Homo sapiens: one gene and its partners. The protein of the gene in region 3 purifies or fractionates together with the protein of the main gene of each other region. This does not show direct contact. Each region holds a gene or a part of one and is shown on either strand. Other genes may lie near its edges.

What was found. The genes of interacting proteins can lie anywhere in the genome.
Region 1: the proteins of PARD6B (region 3) and LLGL1 purify together in Homo sapiens (affinity purification with mass spectrometry; 7 studies listed by BioGRID and IntAct, with this or other methods). This does not show direct contact.
Region 2: the proteins of PARD6B (region 3) and KBTBD7 purify together in Homo sapiens (affinity purification with mass spectrometry; 4 studies listed by BioGRID and IntAct, with this or other methods). This does not show direct contact.

What each region holds. Positions count from the first base shown.
Region 1 is NC_000017.11:18,242,635-18,246,184, reverse strand, and holds the end of LLGL1 (lethal(2) giant larvae protein homolog 1), read right to left. Parts: intron 3,443-3,550; coding exon 3,364-3,442; 3' UTR 3,363-3,363; intron 2,278-3,362; coding exon of another isoform or gene 2,136-2,277; 3' UTR 1,310-2,135; downstream 1-1,309. Other genes in the region: FLII (protein flightless-1 homolog), read left to right, coding at 1-23, 123-251, 335-441, 525-630, 766-1,047. UniProt on the Homo sapiens protein: Cortical cytoskeleton protein found in a complex involved in maintaining cell polarity and epithelial integrity. Involved in the regulation of mitotic spindle orientation, proliferation, differentiation and tissue organization of neuroepithelial cells.
Region 2 is NC_000013.11:41,190,761-41,198,630, reverse strand, and holds the start of KBTBD7 (kelch repeat and BTB domain-containing protein 7), read left to right. Parts: upstream 1-4,061; 5' UTR 4,062-4,373; coding exon 4,374-6,428; 3' UTR 6,429-7,870. UniProt on the Homo sapiens protein: As part of the CUL3(KBTBD6/7) E3 ubiquitin ligase complex functions as a substrate adapter for the RAC1 guanine exchange factor (GEF) TIAM1, mediating its 'Lys-48' ubiquitination and proteasomal degradation.
Region 3 is NC_000020.11:50,733,690-50,742,309, reverse strand, and holds part of PARD6B (partitioning defective 6 homolog beta), read right to left. Parts: intron 4,454-8,620; coding exon 4,231-4,453; intron 1-4,230. UniProt on the Homo sapiens protein: Adapter protein involved in asymmetrical cell division and cell polarization processes. Probably involved in formation of epithelial tight junctions.

The sequences.
Region 1 (3,550 bases), on a different chromosome or scaffold from region 3:
CCGAGTTCTGCTTCATCCTCAAGGTGGGGTTGTGGGTGTGAGCCAGGACTCCGTGGACCAAGGGGTGGGGTGTTTGGGGGCTGAGTCAGCTGCGAACACCCCCACCCCTGCACACTCCCCAGGTTCCCTTTGAGAGTGAGGACAACCAGGGCATCGTGTATGCCTGGGTGGGCCGGGCATCAGACCCTGACGAAGCCAAGTTGGCAGAAGACATCCTGAACACCATGTTTGACACCTCCTACAGCAAGCAGGTCAGGAGGCGGGCGGGCAGGCGGGCACACACAGAGGAGCCAGGGCAGGCAGGGGCCCTGGGCTGGACTGGCCTTTCCCGCAGGTTATCAACGAAGGTGAGGAGCCTGAGAACTTCTTCTGGGTGGGCATTGGGGCACAGAAGCCCTATGATGACGATGCCGAGTACATGAAACACACACGTCTCTTCCGGTGAGGCCAGGGCCCTGACCCTCCCCTCAGTCCTGGCACTGCTGCTTATGACCTCTGGCCTCACCTTGACCCTTGATTCCCAGGTGCTCCAACGAGAAGGGCTACTTTGCAGTGACTGAGAAATGCTCCGACTTTTGCCAAGATGACCTGGCAGATGATGACATCATGTTGCTAGACAATGGCCAAGAGGTGTGATGTTGCCACTAGCCCTGCCCATCCAAGGAGGCGCCCATAGACTTACTTACAAATGGGAATTCTCGGGCCAGGAGCAAGGGGCTGTTCCCAGGCACCCATGCAACCGTATCTCCCCTGCTGCCCCCACAGGTCTACATGTGGGTGGGGACCCAGACTAGCCAGGTGGAGATCAAGCTGAGCCTGAAGGCCTGCCAGGTAATCTGGGTGGAGGGAGGGCCGAGGTGGGCCTGTGGGCAGGGCAGGGTCATCACCCAAGGCTCGCTGTCCCCTTGCCAGGTATATATCCAGCACATGCGGTCCAAGGAACATGAGCGGCCGCGCCGGCTGCGCCTGGTCCGCAAGGGCAATGAGCAGCACGCCTTTACCCGCTGCTTCCACGCCTGGAGCGCCTTCTGCAAGGCCCTGGCCTAAGACAGGCTGGCACAGCCCCAGGCTTGGTGAGGAAGAGGAAGGGGCCTCATCCACTGTCTGCTAGCAAAGAATGTACTCAGGTGACACCACCTGCTCCAGCCACGTCCAGTGCCACAGTCCCCAGTAGCCTCAAGCAGCACCAATGGGGATGACCCTGACAGGTGCCCTCAGGGGTCTGGGAAATCCAACTCTCTCCACAGTGTGAGTGCACGTGTGAAGCCCCCTCACTCTTCCGCTAGGGATAAAGCAGATGTGGATGCCCTTTAAGAGATATTAAATGCTTTTATTTTCAATATTAAAAATCAGTATTTTTAATATTAAAATGGCGCTAATTTTAACAAAACGACAGAAAAAAACCCCAAGGTACAATCTACAGGGAAACTCATCTTGACCCCCCCCCCTGCCCCCCCCCCCCGCCGGACACACACACCTGACTAGGCCCCAGATGTGGGTGCCCAGCAGAGCTCCCAGTCACATCCATGCCCGCACACACACACTCATGACAGGCTGGGGACTGGCCCAGAAGCAGGTACCAAAATAGTTTAGTTTTAGAAACAACTGTCCAGCCCAGGCGCTAGAAAAATACTCTTTGCAGGGCTGGGCATGGTGGCTCACGCCTGTAATCCCAGCACTTTGGGAGGCTGAGGTGGGTGGATCACGAGGTCAGGAGATCGAGACCATCCTGGCTAACATGGTGAAACCCCATCTCTACTAAAAATACAGAAAAAATTAGCTGGGCGTGGTGGTGGGCGCCTGTAGTCCCAGCTACTTGGGAGGCTGAGGCAGAAGAATGGCGGGAACCCAGAAGGCGGGGCTTGCAGTGAGCAGAGATGGGGCCACTGCACTCCAGCCTGGGCGACAGAGCAAGACTCCGTCTTTAAGAAAAAAAAAAAAAAGGAAAAATACTCTGCAAAGTGAGGGGGAAGGATGGTGTGTGGAGGGGGGGAGGTGGCACAGGTGCTGGGCCCCACCTGTCCTCTTCCCTAGGCAGTGGGCCCCCAGGGCAGCCAAATGCCTGCAGGAGGGCTCAGTTCTGGCCCAGGTCCCAGGCCCACACCCTGGGGCTGGTGCTGCTCCAGGGCCCAGGGTCAGGCGGGACAGGACAGCAGGTCCCAGTGGAGCCTACAGGTTAGCAGGCGTGGTTCTATGTTAAGGGGCCAGGCAGGTGCCAGGGATCCAGCACTCCAGCTCCGAGCAGGGCAGGTGGAGGTCGGGATAGTTCTGGCCTTCCTGGAAGAGGGAGAGAAGAGGTATCAGCAGAAGGTGAGGGAGGGCAAAAGGGCAGATGGATTGCCACAGCGGCCAGACCACACAGGTGCTGCCACTGTCTCCTCTGCAGGGCAGGCATGGCCCTTCAGTGACCACCTGAGATGGGCTTGCTGAGTCTCCAGATGGGTATCCAAGCGCCAGGCCACATATGCCCCACTGAGGCCAGGGAGAGGCACCAGACAAAGAGCTGGGAGGTGTCCATGTCCTGTGCAGGGTGAGGCTATGGCCTACAGTCAGGTGCCTGGGAACATGAGGCAGCAAATGCGCTGGGCAGATCTATGGGCCCCACATCTAGGTGAGGATCCACAGACTCAGGCAGGGGTAAGTCAGCCACTTGCTGGGCCCAACCGATGAGACCTGACCTCGTGCACCTCAGTGATCTCATCTATGAAACAGGCTGGCCAAACCAGCTCCCAAGCCCCAAACTACTGCCACCTCTAAGTGGTTTAATCTGGTCTTGTTGGCCGGGTGCGGTGGCTCACGCCTGTAATCCCAGGACTTAGGGAGGCCGAGGCGGGTGGATCATGAGGTCAGGAGATCGAGACCATCCTGGCTAACACAGTGAAACCCCGTCTCTACTAAAAACACAAAAAATTAGCTGGGTGTGGTGGCGGGCGCCTGTAGTCCCAGCTGCTCAGGAGGCTGAGGCAGGAGAATGGCATGAACCCAGGAGGCAGAGGTTGCAGTGAGCCAAGATCACGCCACTGCACTCCAGCCTGGGCGACAGAGCAAGACTCCGTCTCAAAAACAAAACAAAACAAAACAAAACAAAACAAATCTGGTCTTGTCCTAACCACCACCTGTCACATGCAAGGGCTGAGGGGCTGGCCCTGCTTTTCTAATACCCAACCATGACACTGGTGTCTGTGTGAGCACCAGAAGTCCCCAATTGAGGCACTCCATGGAAGGCAGCCAGGTTTCAGAGAGTGCCATCACATGGGCCTGCCAGGGTCTCAGGTAGAAGACCAGGGCCAAATGGTACCCAGACGGGCTGAAGGGGGTGGACGTCACCAGTGGTGAGGACCAGGGCCCCACCCCTGCAGCACCTCATTTGATCAGGATGGCACAGGCGTGGGCCTCGTCTTCTGCCAGGTTCCTCAGGTTCTTCTCTGACTCCTCAGAGGAGCTGCGAGATGGGGATGGTGCTCAGGGGTGGGGGCGGGGGAGCCCCTGGCAGCCCTGGGGACGGAGGCCTAGGGGACAGGGCAGCCCCCCCTGTGGACCTGCCCACCAG
Region 2 (7,870 bases), on a different chromosome or scaffold from region 3:
TTGAGAAGGAGTCTTGCTCTGTTGCCCAGGCTGGAGTCCAGTGGTGTGATCTGGGCTCACTGCAACCTCTGCCTCCCAGATTCAAGTGATTCTCCTGCCTCAGCCTCCTGAGTAGCTGGGATTACAGGTGTCCGTCACCACATCCAGCTAATTTTTGTATTTTAGTAGAGACGGGGTTTCACCATGTTCCCCAGGCTGATCTGGAACTCCTGGGCTCAAGTGATCTGCCCGCCTTGGCCTCCCAAAGTGCTGGAATTACAGGTGTGAGCCACTGTGCCCAGCCCCACCCCTTGCTTTTAATACCCATCCCCTTCATTAAAGATGCCCTATATCTATGACTTCCCGGCTCTCAGAAGCTGAGAAATTGATTTGTGAGCCATGCTCCTGCTTCTCAAATCCATGGCCATGGAATAAAACCTGCACTGCTTGATGCTCACTTTCAGTTTCGCATCTTGGCTTCATGACATAGAACAGGGAAAAATCTCATCTTCACAGGACCAGCTTTGTCATTAACACTATTATGAAGATACTTATACAAGTGTTTTTGTGGATATATGTTTTCATTTCCCTGAGGCAACTGCCTGGGAGTGAAATTACACGGCGTTTAACATTAAAAGAAACTACAAAAGAATTTTCTAATGTGGTTATACCAATTTATATTCCTATTATTAGCATATGAGAGTTCCAACGGCTCCATATCTCCACTAATATATAGTATCATTGATGTTTTTAAGTTAAGGCATTCTAGTGGGTATTCAGTGTTTTCTTATTGTGAATTTAATGTGCATTGGCCACCGGGTATACATGTTACCAATATTTTTTCCCAGTCTGTGGTTTATCTTTTGTTGTTTTCACTGCCTTTCCATAGGCAGCAGCTTGTAATTTTGTTGAAATTCACTTTTGAAATTCACTTTGTCTTTTTTTTATGATCTGTGTTTTTGGTGTCCCAAGAAAACTTTGCCAACCGCAAAGCTATAGTCTTCTATGTTTTCTTTTCTTTTCTTTTTTTTTTTTTTCTGAGACGGAGTCTCGCTCTGTCGCCCAGGCTGGAGTGCAGTGGCGCAATCTTGGCTCACTGCAAGTTACGCCTCCTGGATTCATGCCATTCTCCTGCCTCAGTCTCCTGAGTAGCTGGGCCTACAGGTGTCTGCCACCATGCCCAGCTAATTTTTTGTATTTTTAGTAGAGACAGGGTTTCACCGTGTTAGCCAGGATGGTCTCAATCTCCTGACCTCATGATCCGCCTGCCTCAGCCTCCCAAAGTGCTGGGATTACAGGTGTGAGCCACTGCACCCGGCCCTATGTTTTCTTTTTGAAGCTTTATAGTTTCCACTTTTCCATTTAGTATTAGGAGAAATTTTGAATTAATTTTTTGCTTATGGTGTAAGGTAGGGGCAAGGGCAACTTTCTGTCTTACATTCTTGATCCAGTTGTTCCAATAACATTTGTTGAAAAGAATTTTCTTTCTTCATTGAATTGCATTGGTATCATGCTGTATTTCTAAAATTTTAAATTTAATTCCTCAGTTGCACTAGCCACATTTCACGTACCCAAGAGCTACATGTGGCTTCTGGCTACTGTATCAGCCAGCACAAATATAAAATATTCCCAAGTTTTATGGGACAGCACATAGCTCTAGATCTTAGGGAATAGTGCCTAATAGATATCTTCAATTGTGTGACAGGTAACCTAAACCAAATAACACAGTAAGAGCAGATATAAGGAAGGTAAAAATCAGTCACTGCCTATATGAGGTACCTAGAGTAGTCAAAAGTCATAGAGACAAAGAGTAGAATGGCAGTTGCCAGAAGTGGGGGCTAGAGAGTTATTGTTTAAATGGGTACAGAGCTTCAGTTTTGTGATAGTGGCAAAACCGTGTGAATATATTTAATGCTAAAGAACTATACACTGAAAATGTTTAAATGGTAAATTTAGTGTTATGTATATTTTACCAATATTTTAAGAAGTTTTTTAAAATGGCCATTCCTGCGCTGGGCATGTGGCTCATGCCTGTAATTGCAGCAACTCAGAGGCTCAGGCAGGAAGAGTGCTTGACACCAAGATTTCCAGACCAGGCTGGCAACACAGTGAGACCCTGTCTATAATTTTTTTTTAATTAACTGGGTGTGGTGGTATGCATCTATAGCTCTAGTTACTTGGGAGGCTGAGGGCAAAGTATTGCTTGAGCACTGGAGTTTGAGGCAGCAGTGAGCTATTATGGTGCCACTGCACTCCAACCTGGGTGACAGGGCAAGACCCCATCTCAAAAAAAAAAAAAAAAAAGAAAAAAAAAAGGCTTTTTTCCCCAGCTGGTATTCACTGCAAGTCAGGAAACAATCATTGTTACTGATAATGACTGACTTGATTCTCTCTGGTGTATCTGAGGGATATCTAACATCTCTTTTTATTTACAGAGGAGTTATTAGAGCCCAGAGGCTGACTTAATTTAATGTGTCTACCCTAGAGTATTTCCAGTGGACTTCAGCTGATAAGTTGAAGTTATCTTCAGCTGATAAGAGAAAAACAATTTGAAAGTTATTCTCTTGTAATGTGTTATCCATACATGCATGTAACACTGATGATTTTCTTTATTAGGTTATGGTAACATAACAAACTAGCAGCAGGAGCAGTCATGGTTTTGTAATAAAAGTTATCTGAAAAAGTCTGTTACTGGTGGAGGGTGTCCAGGTTCTTGGCGTTTTGGACAAAAAATTGGACAAAACACATAAACAAAGCAAGGAAACAATGAAACAACAAAAGCAGAGATTTACTGAAAATGAAAGTACACTCCACAGTGGGGAGCGGGCCTGAGCATAGGGGCTCAAGGGCCCTGTTACAGAATTTCTGAAGGTTTAAATACCCTCTAGAGGATTCCACTGGTTACTTGGTGTACACCCTATGTAAATGAAGAGAATGAAGTAAAGTTACAAACTCATTTACTCAGCATACACCCTATGGAGAGGATCTTTCCTGTTATAGCTAAAGTGTGAATCAGCCTTATGTTCCCTGCCTCCAGACCCTATTTTCCTGCCTCAAATCTCTAATACTTGATTTTGATGATTTAACTGTTGATCCCAATGCAAATATAAAAGACTTTGTAAAGCATAGACTATACTATATATTAATTCAAGGAATGTCAGGGCATGTACTGATGTTGAATTCTGAGAATCATGTGCTTTTGTACAGAACAAAGTCTGTTTGTTGAAATATTTTGAGTTAAAATACTCCCTAAAACTCCTTAATAAAGGGAATTACATAATCTGTTAATTGATTTGTGGAACGGCAGTGAAAGAGGCTGTATTAGACGACTTGAAAACACTCATATTTGGAGCTTAACGAAAATACTCCTGCTCTCCAGAGATGAAATGTTAGTGAGAGCAGCAAATAATTTATTTTTATATGCTGGATTTGCGTATTTGAGACCATCTATTAATACTGTTCTTTAGGACCTCAACCTAGTCGTCTAAGACATCCTTATTAAACGAGACCAATAGATATCATTTAATATTGAAAATATTGTTAATGCCCTTCAAAATCTTTCGAAGGAATAAACATTAAAAACTAGAAATTCTTTGTAAAATTTTGCGGTTTAAAATAATACTCGGTTTCAAATTAGTGGGTGCCTCATTTATCATAAATTATAAAAGAGAATCTAACAGTTATTGGCTACATTCTAGGCACGGGGTAACGCTTTACTATTCTTCTAACCAAAAACATACATGTATCTAAGTATCCCATGTAAGGTATCATTGAACCACACAAAACCCTATGAAATACTGGCAGGGGGCGGTGGCTCACGCCTGTAATCCCAGCACATTGAGAGGCCGAGGCAGGAGGATAATTTGAGCCCTCAGGAGTTCAAGACCAGCCTGGGCAACAGTCTCTTCACCATCAAATCCAGGAGAATTAATTTCTACTGTTAGAGCAGTCAACTAAAGGACAGCTCGCGATATTACACAAACTACTACTCCCAACATGCAAAGCGGTTTCTTTCCCTCTGTCCCCGCCCGGCCGTCCGAGAGCCCCAGCAGGCCTCGGGGCGCGAAAGGCAACCTGGGAGCAGTAGTTCTCCCGGGCGCCTAGCGGGATCGCCAGCGCGGCAGTGGGGGCTTCCGCGGCTGCAAGCCAGCGGGTCCTGTGAGGGCGAGCGGAGGCGGAGAAAGGGCGCGGGAGTGAGAGAGGGTGAGTCAGCCACTGTCTATGCAATAAAGGGAGGCCTCACCGCGGGATAGGGCTGAATTCAGAAGTGCGGCCCGTGCCGCAGTCTGTTCCAGGACGCGGCTTGTCTTAGCGTCAGCGAGGGAAGGTTGAGGAGGAGCCAGAGCCTGGTCCTGCAGCCTTTCTCGCCGTCAGCGCCCGTCGCCATCTCCACCATGCAGTCCCGGGAAGACGTCCCGCGCTCTCGCCGCCTCGCCAGTCCCCGTGGTGGGAGGCGGCCCAAGAGGATTTCCAAGCCCTCGGTTTCGGCCTTTTTCACGGGTCCAGAGGAGTTAAAGGACACGGCCCATTCTGCAGCCCTGCTGGCACAGCTCAAGTCCTTCTACGACGCGCGGCTGCTGTGTGATGTGACCATCGAGGTGGTGACGCCTGGCAGCGGGCCTGGCACGGGTCGCCTCTTTTCCTGCAATCGCAACGTGCTAGCAGCTGCGTGTCCCTACTTCAAGAGCATGTTCACAGGTGGCATGTACGAGAGCCAGCAGGCCAGCGTGACCATGCACGATGTGGACGCCGAGTCCTTCGAGGTGTTGGTCGACTACTGCTACACGGGTCGTGTGTCTCTCAGTGAGGCCAATGTGCAGCGCCTGTACGCGGCCTCCGACATGCTACAGCTGGAATATGTGCGGGAAGCCTGTGCCTCCTTCTTAGCCCGACGTCTTGACCTGACCAACTGCACCGCCATCCTCAAGTTTGCAGACGCCTTCGACCATCACAAGCTTCGATCTCAGGCCCAGTCCTACATAGCTCACAACTTCAAGCAGCTCAGCCGAATGGGTTCAATTCGGGAGGAGACTCTAGCAGATCTAACCCTGGCCCAGCTGCTGGCTGTCCTACGCCTGGATAGTCTGGACATAGAGAGTGAGCGGACTGTATGCCATGTAGCTGTGCAGTGGCTGGAGGCTGCTGCCAAAGAGCGGGGTCCCAGTGCTGCAGAAGTCTTCAAGTGCGTGCGCTGGATGCACTTCACTGAAGAAGATCAGGACTACTTAGAAGGGCTGCTGACCAAGCCCATCGTGAAGAAGTACTGCCTGGACGTTATTGAAGGGGCCCTGCAGATGCGCTATGGTGACCTGTTGTACAAGTCTCTGGTGCCAGTGCCAAACAGCAGCAGCAGCAGTAGCAGCAGCAACTCTCTTGTATCTGCAGCAGAAAATCCACCCCAGAGACTGGGTATGTGTGCCAAGGAGATGGTGATCTTCTTTGGACATCCTAGAGATCCCTTTCTCTGCTATGACCCTTACTCGGGGGACATTTACACAATGCCATCCCCTTTGACCAGCTTTGCTCACACTAAGACTGTCACCTCCTCAGCTGTCTGTGTGTCCCCAGACCATGACATCTATCTAGCTGCTCAGCCCAGGAAAGACCTCTGGGTGTATAAACCAGCTCAGAATAGTTGGCAGCAACTTGCAGATCGCTTGCTGTGTCGTGAGGGCATGGATGTGGCATATCTCAATGGCTACATCTACATTTTGGGGGGACGAGACCCTATTACTGGAGTTAAGTTGAAGGAAGTGGAATGCTACAGTGTTCAGAGAAACCAGTGGGCATTGGTGGCTCCTGTCCCTCATTCCTTCTATTCCTTTGAACTCATAGTGGTTCAGAACTATCTTTATGCTGTCAACAGTAAGCGCATGCTTTGCTATGATCCTAGCCACAATATGTGGCTGAACTGTGCTTCTCTTAAACGTAGTGACTTTCAGGAAGCATGTGTCTTCAATGATGAAATCTATTGTATCTGTGACATCCCAGTCATGAAGGTCTACAACCCAGCTAGGGGAGAATGGAGGCGGATTAGTAATATTCCTTTGGATTCAGAGACCCACAACTACCAGATTGTCAATCATGACCAAAAGTTGCTTCTCATCACTTCTACAACCCCACAATGGAAAAAGAACCGAGTGACAGTGTATGAGTATGATACTAGGGAAGATCAGTGGATTAATATAGGTACCATGTTAGGCCTTTTGCAGTTTGACTCTGGCTTTATTTGCCTTTGTGCTCGTGTTTATCCTTCCTGCCTTGAACCTGGTCAGAGTTTTATTACTGAGGAAGATGATGCACGGAGTGAGTCTAGTACTGAATGGGACTTAGATGGATTCAGTGAGCTGGACTCTGAGTCAGGAAGTTCAAGTTCTTTTTCAGATGATGAAGTCTGGGTGCAAGTAGCACCTCAGCGAAATGCACAGGATCAGCAGGGTTCTTTGTAAATAGTATTTTGAGACACTAAGATGTTTCTACTGCTACGGAATGTATTTTAAACACATATCGTTTCTTTTTCTTGGAAAAAAAGTTGATTAGGACCACAGATTTGGTTTAGAAAGGGTAATATTTTGAAATACTACAAGGTTTAGACAGTCCATGAAATCGACCTGTTTAATAATTTACCATCCTGAAAGTCCAGAATTAAAATATGGAAGCAAGAACTATATAATTGATTAGGATGCTTGGTAGGTTTTTTTCATTGTTCAAATATTCATTGCACAGTGGATTGTTTTGATTAGTTAGTATGCTTTTTTTTTAATTAATTCAGTCTTCTGTTAATTTTTAAGTTTTGGTTAGTGCCACAAGGAATTTAACTTTTTGATTTGTATAATAGAAAACTGAACTAGGAATTGTTAGCGGGGTTTTGAAGGATGTGTACTTTCCTTCAAAATAAAGTGGTAGATTTTCAAAATTTTACACTAGTCAGTTCTTTATATTCTAAGTTAAATGTAGTTTGTAAAATTATTTTGGTTTTCTTCTACAAAGGAAAAAATTGGATTTATATATATAAGGTTACTGCATAATGATTTCATTTTGATAATGTGCAGAATGGCCTCATAAGCTCACAGAAAGTAAAAAAAAAAAAAAAAAAAAAGAAAAAATCAGGATTCCACTGTTTTAAAAGAAATCTCAGTTTTTATTTTGGAATATAAAATGTGTATTTGGTATATGTGACCAATTTTCTATCCCAAAAAACACCCATTCTTAGTAATGTCATGAATTAAACACCCTTCTAAACCAAAAAAAAAAAAAAAAACGGTAACTTGCTTTTTATGTTTGTGTTTTTAATTTATGCCCAATACATGCTTTACTGACTCAGAGGAACAATTCCTGGACATATAATTGGGTAATGCAAATTTTTATCCACTGGTCATGATTTGTCTTAAAATGTTTACTTGCCTCCCTAAAATATTTTGGCTGTGTAGGTTTGGTGTTTGTCCTAGAGGATTCTTCAACAGAAAGTGATTTATTCTTTACTGTTTTGTGAGGTAATATGGTTTAGAACATATGTATAAGCTAAAAACAGTATTTTACTCAGATCAGTAGTTATCGTGTCTATCAGCTATAAAAAAAATCAACTGCCAGCCAAGAACTTTAAAACTTTAAGCTGTGTATTATAGAACCGTTTTGTGTAGCATTGGAATATTGTCCATTTTGTAAGTCATTGTGAATGTTCTTAATTATCAGCTTGAAGGTATTTTTGTATTAAAAGTTGACATTGAAGAACCTAAGTGGATGATGGGATTTGGGGCCAGTAGTGAAAGTATGTTTCCTCTAAAATATTTCCCTAAACAGTGGTATACATGGTTATTTTATTATGAGATTTGTATATGTTCTGTGTTTCTCTGTGAACAATGTTTCAGTCTCTCTGTCACCATATGTAAGG
Region 3 (8,620 bases):
CACTTTGGGAGGCCGAGGTGGGCGGATCACTTGAGGTCAGGAGTTTGAGAACAGTCTGGCCAACATGGCAAAACCCTGTCTCTACTAAAAATACAAAAATTAGCTGGGCGTGGTGGCACGCATCTGTAGTCCCAGCCACTCTGGAAGCTGAGGCACAAGAACCTGGGAGGCGGAGGTTGCAGTGAGTGGAGGTCACGCCCCTGCATTCCAGCCTGGGTGACAGAGCAAGACTTAAAACAAAACAAAACAAAACACCAGTACATATTAAGTGTAACTTCTGCCTTACTGATGCCTAACTGAAATCAAAAAGCAAACAGAAAATGTGCTGTAATCAAGCAGTAAAATGTAACTATACTTAATGTCATACTTTATATTAGTTCCTTGAATTAAATGTTCATTAAGGTTTACATAAAATCAGATTTCTAGTTAAGCATCTGCTCAACTTTGCTTAAAAGACAGAGTGCGGCCGGGCGCGGTGGCTCACGCCTGTAATCCCAGCACTTTGGGAGGCCGAGACGGGCGGATCACGAAGTCAGGAGATCGAGACCATCCTGGCTAACACAGTGAAATCCCGTCTCTACTAACAATACAAAAAAAAAAATTAGCCGGGTGTGTTGGCGGGCTCCTGTAGTCCCAGCTACTCAGAGGCTGAGGCAGGAGAATGGTGTGGAGCTTGCAGTGAGCCGAGATCGCGCCACTGCACTCCAGCCTGGGGGACAGAGCTAGACTCCGTCCCCACTCCACAAAAAAAAGAGTGCATGCATTATAGTACACTAAGTAAGTCTGCCAGATTTAGATGCTGCGACCTGATGGTAAACCAGACAGACAGGAAACAAGTTAACATATTCTTAAATAAGATATTTCCAGGTCTTCAGAGGATGATGTGGTAAAGGTGGGAAGGTGGAGGGCTTTAGTTAGGGTAGTCAGAAGAGACTCCTCTGACAAACTTATCTGAGCTAAGCAGGAGGAGGCAGACGTGGGAAGAACCGAGGGTGAAGTGTCCTTAAGAATAACCAAGCATAAGAGCACAGAAACAGAAACAAGCTAACGGCTGGGTGCAGTGGCTCACACCTGTAATCCCAGAACACTTCGAGGCCAAGACGGGTGGATCACCTGAGGTCAGGAGTTCGAGACCAGCCTGGCCAACATGGTGACACCCCATCTCTACTAAAAATACAAAAATTAGCCAGGCATGGTGGCATGCACCTGTAGTCTCAGCTACTCAGGAGGCTGAGGCAGGACAATCACTTGAACCTGGGAAGCAGAGGTTGCAGTGAGCCGAGATTGCACCACTGCACTCCAGCCTGGGTGACAGAGCAAGACTCCATCTCAAAAAAAAAAAAAAAAAGAAACAAGCTCATCAAGTCTGAGGAACAGGAAGGAAGCCAGTGTGGCTGACTGTGATGAGGGAGTGAGAGAATGAGGGAAGATGAGGTTGGGAAGTCCAAATCAGAAGGGATTTTATTCTGGTTGCAATGGGAAATCATCAGAGGGTTTTAAGCAGGAATGAACTGACTACCTACTTTCATTTTTGCTAAAGTCATATTTGTATTAAATTTATATTTTTAAAATCTAAAATATTTCTGTTGAATTGCCTATTTCTAAATCAAATTCTAAGGGCTATCAATTATATTGGACATTTTACCATTAATAAATAGAAAACATTTGCACATAGAAACATATTTCTAAGTTGTAATTCCTATGACAACAATAAAAACCATCAAAGGTCTCAATAAAAATTATACCACCAATAAATAAAAACTTAGAAAGGAAATAAAAGATAACTACCCTTAAAAGATGTTAGGATTAATTCCATAATCATGCAAGAGTATAATTCCATTAACAAAACATGTGGTGGTATAACTCAACTGTCATAATCTTTCTACCAAAGGGGATAATCCAACAAAATTCTGTCACATGGCAATACTTTAAAAACCCACTCTATATTTGAATGCACATCCAAACAGCAACTAACTTTTTAAAGAAAATTACAATTGCTAACAAGAAAGGCCTATTATTCAACCATAATTATTTAAATTCTTCCTCCTTTTCCAGCACTCTATATATAGCTTTCCAAGGTTCTATCCATGGTCTTCATCTCAGATAGCCTTTATGTCTACTCCCAAAATTTTAACTATCACTTTTCAAAAAGCTTGCAAATCTAACTAGTTTTTGGATTTCTACCCTGAACTTTTGTCTACCATTTCTAATCTTCTGAATGACTGGTTAAGATTATTTGTCCTAAGACAAAATTCATAATTTTCTTTTCCAAATCAATCTACTCTGCTTGTTCATGACACTGTCCCAGCTGTCAGACTCAAACCATCAAGATATGCTCTGCTGGACTCTCCTTCACTGCAAAGCAGCCACAGTGAGTGCAATGACTCCCAAGTATTTCCCCTCCTACCTTCCCGCCACTGCCTTCTCCCCTCCCCCCACCCTTCCCCTCTACTTCTAGGCCAGTCTCCTCACTTCTTTACCGCCTGCTCCTGGCTCTCTACTGTAAGACTGCTGCCCACTCCAATTCATCCTGAACAGCCAACTGAATCTTCCTAAGGTCATACTCTCATTATATCGCATTCCTGTTAATTACCTTTGAGATCCATCTCAGGAAACTTTGGGAACATTAATTTGTGTGTGAAAGTATTTTGTAAAATAGTCAAGTGATATAGGCAGAGGTTATCCTTGGAGGTTTATTTTGTTGGTGGACTTTAGTTCCTCCAAACCCAGGAAAGCAAAGATACATAATCAGTGGAATTCCAGAGCCCTGGGAGTGGTCTAATGCTTATCAACTGATTAGAAATAGTTTTCACCTTCAAAGATAATCCCCACCCATTCTCTCAAGCTACTTTCTTTTCAAAAAAATTTTTTTGAGGAGTCTTGCTCTGTTGCCCAGGCTGGAGTGCAGTGGTACGATCTCGGCTCACTGCAACCTCCACCTCCTGGCTGATTCTCCTGCCTCAGCCTCCTGAATAGCTGGGATTACAGACATGTGCCACCATGCCCAGCTAATTTTTGTATTTTTAGTAGAGATGGGGTTTCACCATGTTAGCCATGCTAGTCATGAACTTCTGACCTCAGATGATCCGCCCGCCTCCACCTCCCAAAGTGCTGGGATTACACACGTGAGCCACCAAGCCTGGCCGCTCTCAAGCTACTTTCTGGGTTGGCTTATAAATACCGTAAGTCTTTAATTTATCCCAATACCAGGCTTGATGCTCTCATGCTGGCTTCCCAAACCACTTCATTTACAATTGAGAAAGGAAAAAATGGTACATACCATAATAAGCCCTACCCTGCCTATCTGCAGACACACATACATACACACACAAAGGCTACGAGATTAAAAAAAAAAAGTTTTAGGACTCAAAATACATTTGAAAATTCTTGGCTGAGCATGGTGGCTCATGCCTATAATCCCAGCACTTTGAGAGGCAGGGACTGGAGGATCACCGGAGACCAGGCAACATAGTAAGACCCAGTCTTTACAAAAAAAGAAAGAAAGAAAGTTATTGCCAAATAGTGATTTCAATTTTTTTGGAAGACTAATTAATATCAGTGTTTACATCCTTCCACAATAGTAACTTCCCACCTCATTTTCCAGATAATTAACTAGTTTTATACAATTTCTTTAAAAAGTATCCTAAAAGTAAAAGAAAGAAAGTATTTACTGGGTGCTTACTATAAGCCAGGGCACTGCACTTAGCTCATTTAATCCTCATAGTAATTCTACAAAATATTATAATCTTTCTATAGGTGCAGACATTGAGACTCAGGAAGATTAAATGGCTTTGTTTCTGGTATTTATTAACTGGTAAATACAGCCTTTGAAAGTTGGTTGCCACCAAAAAACAGGAATGCTTTGGATTCCAAAGTCACACTCTTTTCACATTTTTCTGAGTGGAGAATAATCCATTTGATAAAGTGAAGATTCAATAAATTCCCAATATTCAATAAATTCCCAATTTCTACTTAAGGAAAAATAAAACCAAAGAGGTTAACACAAAAGTAACTAGAAATATAAATTTTCTAAAGTACACTTAGTGAAGCATAAAGATATTAATTAAACCAACAATATCACAAATGTTTTAACCCACATGTTAGTTAACATAAGAAGATTCACACAAAATGTTTATTCACTAAGTTTGTGGCAAAGTCTGGGTATCCTTTCAGTGGGGAAAATACACTATTTCTATTTCTAACACAATTTTTCTAAACAGTGATACTTACCCTTCTTTTGTATAAATATCCTAAGCAGTGGATTGGCCGTTGAAACAGCTTTGTGATAATTATCATCATTATTTATAGGTAGTAAGTCTCCATGGATGTCTGCATAGCCTACCAAAACGTCAACATTGGGGATCTTATGAACATGTTGTAGTAATCCATAAAACTCCTCAAATTTTCCAGGTTTTGATCTTTCCAGCGAAAACCGACGAAATTCAGCTCCAAACTATAAACGTAACAAACATATTACTTAAAAAAAAAAAAAAAAGTAAAAGGACCCAATTTGAAAATGCATGCCATAGAAAAATTAACGAGCAGAGCAAGTATTTTTAATTAAGGAAAGATTGTCTATTGTGAAGAACCTTACTATCAGGGATTTTAAAAAGCCTAAGAAAGGCACAAGAATGTGCCTCCTGACTGCTGTGTCTCTGAAGAGCATTCCTTTCAAGAGAGGCAGGCTCAACTCTATCTATCCCTGGGGTACCTAGGCCTTACTGCGGACTGTTCTGCATAGTGACTCAGCTCAAACCCTGTCTGGAGCCCAGACTCTGACGGCAATGCTCTCCTCAGGTGCATCATGGGGTACCAAAGACTTGTCCAAGTCCTTATTTTGACCAAAGGAAAGCATTTAAGTGTCCTCCCCCATAAATGGAACTAGGATTTCATGGTATGTGGTAAGAATCAACAGCAAAATATACAAAAAGAACTGTGAGCTACGTGGCGTTAAGGTATGATCTTCCCTATGTTAATGCAGAAAAAAATAAGCTTCAGTAATACATCAAATGTATGTCCTATAACTATCCAATTAACGCACAAAGTGTTTATGTGTTTGGCACAGTGCTAGGCCCTAGAGATTGAAAGCCTCGAGCCTGCTCCAGAAGCTCACCAATTAGTGGGTAAAGAGAATAATTACTTCAGGGAGGTATTAAGAGATCACACAAATGGGGCGGAATGGGGAGGAAGACAGCCTCCATCATGCCCAATACTTACCTTCACAGTTCTGATTCTGAAGTCTGTTTCCCTACACCTCTGTTTTCCCAATGTCAAATAATTAAAAGTGACTCTTATTCAACACTAAGAACTGAGGCCAGGCGCGATGGCTCACATCTGTAATCCCAGCACTTTGAGAGGCTGAGGCGGGAGGATCACAAGGTCAGGAGTTCAAAACCAGCCTAGCCAACATGGCAAAACCCGTCTCTACTAAAAATACAAAAATTAGCCAGGTGTGGTGGCACATGCCTGTAGTCCCAACTACTCAGGAGGCTGAGGCAGGAGACTCTCTTGAATCTGGGAGGCAGAGGTTGCAGTGAGTCGAGATCATGCCACTGTACTCCAGCCTGGGCAACAGAGCAAGACTCCGTCTCAAAAAAGAAAAAAAAAAAAAAAACCAAAACACTAAGGACTGGCTTCATCTAGTCCATGATAAACAGGATTTATAACACTGTGGGAATAACATGGCATTTCCTCAAACGTGGAAACCTAAGAAAAGTTAATCTGCCTTCCTCAAAAAGTGTCCCAGTCATGTAAGTTTGAGAAACGCTACATAATTATGCTCTTGGGAATCACTGCGGAGACCAGCACTTTAAAGGCTCATTTAAGCCCTATGTTGGTTTTTAAAAATATTTAAACGAACGTTTGCCTAATGTGTTTAACCACTGAACTCATATTTCTTCCACCTATCTATTACTAGCAAGAAATACTAATGTAAAAATATTATGTCCCAGAGAAAAAAGGAAAAGAGAAATACTGTTGGTACAGCCTTAAGCATCATGTAGAGAAAGCCCCTACCATAATAATTTGAGTTTACAAATATGTCACTTCATTTTCCCAAAGGTCCCATGGGACATCTGGATTCACTGGTTTTGCTCTATCTAAAGTTCACCTGCTCTGCTTACACCCATACTCCTCAGTGGTTTTAACATCAAAACTCACTAAAAACACCTCTTACCTCTAACAAAAATTAAAATAGTTCCCAAAACACATTCCTGAAACATAAACACTAACATCTGTCAAGAAAATAAGGTGACTCATACCTAAGGCTCTCAAAAAGTTTAGTCACACCTTCACATTTCAAAGTAAATAAAAACTCAGGGAACACCCTTCATATCAGTTAGTCTCATGATGTTATCAAAAGTCACAGTTTCTCCTCCATTTTCTTTATTCTGGTATCACAACATGAAGTTGCTAGTGCTTGCTGATTCATCCACAGGGTTTATCACTTCCCCTGATGTATGAATGGGAATAACATCTGATCATTTAACATTTTAGGGCTTCAATGTTTTTGTTAAAGCTTTTGGATGAAATTTCTTCGCTCAATATTTTCTCTTGCTTAACTGTTATGATAAAAACAATAAAAAATTGTATGGCTTCATGGTATATTTGCACTTTTGCCAATATTGGCATGGGAAAAAAAAACCCAAGAGAAATTGTTATGCTTCTTGCAACACAACAATAGGATTAAGGGAACTTTTTACATGAACAAAAACACTAAGAGACAAAATTAAGATTCAATCAGCAATTATTCACTTGTGAACCATTTACAACTGTTTCATAGCCTAGTTTGCCCTAGCCATCCAGAATGTGTATGGACTCCCTTCCCCCAGTGTCTGTTGGTACATTCTAGAAATGCAAACTTAATTTTCATAGTCTATTTGCCTATGAATAATAATTAGGAAATTTTATGACTCAAAGACTGTTCCAGGGTTATTAAAGGACATCATCAAGATTATTGATTAAGAATCTTCCCAACACTAGAGATACAATTAGGAAGATAAAACAGTTACCAAAGAAAAGTCACATACTAGCTGGTACCACAAATTGAACTATAGGTATATTTACATTCTCCATTCTTTTATCATTACTATTTTTCCCTTCCACGTGTGAAGATAATAATGTTGACACTACTGCTTTATTGCATTTTTTTATTTTTTTGAGACAGAGTCTCCCTCTGTCACCCAGGCTCTGAAGTGCAGTGGCGCAATCTCGGCTCACTGCAACCTCCGCCTCCCAGGTTCAAGCAATTCTCCTGCATCAGCCTCCGGAGTAGCTGGGATTACAGGCATATGCCATCACGCCCCACTAATTTTTATATTTTTAGTAGATACAGGGTTTCACCGTGTTGGCCAGGCTGGTCTTGAACTCCTGACCTCAGGTGATCCGCCCACCTTGCCCTCCCAAAGTGCTAGGATTACAGGTGTGAGCCACCATGCCTGGCCAACATTACTGTTTATATGAAGAAAAAGAGATCCTAAAAATGGACCGGAACCCAGTGTGGTGGCTAATGCCTATAATCCAAACACTTTGGGAGGCCTAGGTGGGAATATCACTTGAGCTCAGGAGTTAGAGACCAACATGACCAACATGGCAAAACCCTGTCTCTAAAAAGATAAAAAAAAATTGAAAATAGTAAGAGAAAAATGGACCAGCTAGGTGCAGTGGCTCACGCCTGTAGTCCCAGTACTTTGAGAGGTAGAGACGGGCGGATCACTAGAGCTCAGGTGTTCAAGATCAGACTGGGCAACATGGAGAGACCCCATCTCTACAAAATAAATAAATAAATAAATAAATAAATAAGCTGGGTGTAGTGGTGCACGCCTGTAGTCTTGCTACTCAGGAGGCTGAAATCGGAGAATCGCTTGAGCTCAGGAGGTTGAGGCTGCAGTGAGCCGTGATCGTGCCATTGTACTCCAGCCCGGGTGACAGAGCAAGATCCTGTCTCAAAAAAAAAAGGACCGGCACACTACCTAGTTTTGGTTATAAACTCTTAGCAATCAGTTTTGTAAAAAGCTGTGGTATCACTAAAGCAATGTCAAAGAAAATACTGTTTCAAAAACCCTTCCAAATATTTTTTAAATGGTTAAGGTGACAAATGTTTCAATCTACTGAAAATAAATGTATCAGCAATATATATTTGAAACATATAAGGTGTCATAGACATACTAGAAACACTCACTACCTATATCTTGCCTATTTGTCAACAGCTAGAATAGTGGGACCGACTTCATTCAGCACATGTTCCTAGAATCAGTGTATGATTCTATTTAAAAGACACAGTTAGCTGAAAGTGCAGTATGGCAGTTCAAATATACAACATGTAGTTTAGACAGAAGTAAGTGAAAGATTCACAAATCAGTTGACAAGAGAAAGGCAAAAAGCCTGAAATTCCAGTTTTAAAGCACTCAAGGTTTCTTAGTACTAGAGATAAATTACTATTTGATTGTATTTATCAGTATACTTAGAATTCCTACTCATTTTTTTCTGTGGAAAAAAATTAAAGACTTGCTACCAAGATTAGGGCTATAAACTTAAAATTTTAAGATTATGCAATATCACAAGTGTTTTTCTTTCCATAACCTCAACTCCCACAAATCCAAACTAAACTTATAACAAAAAT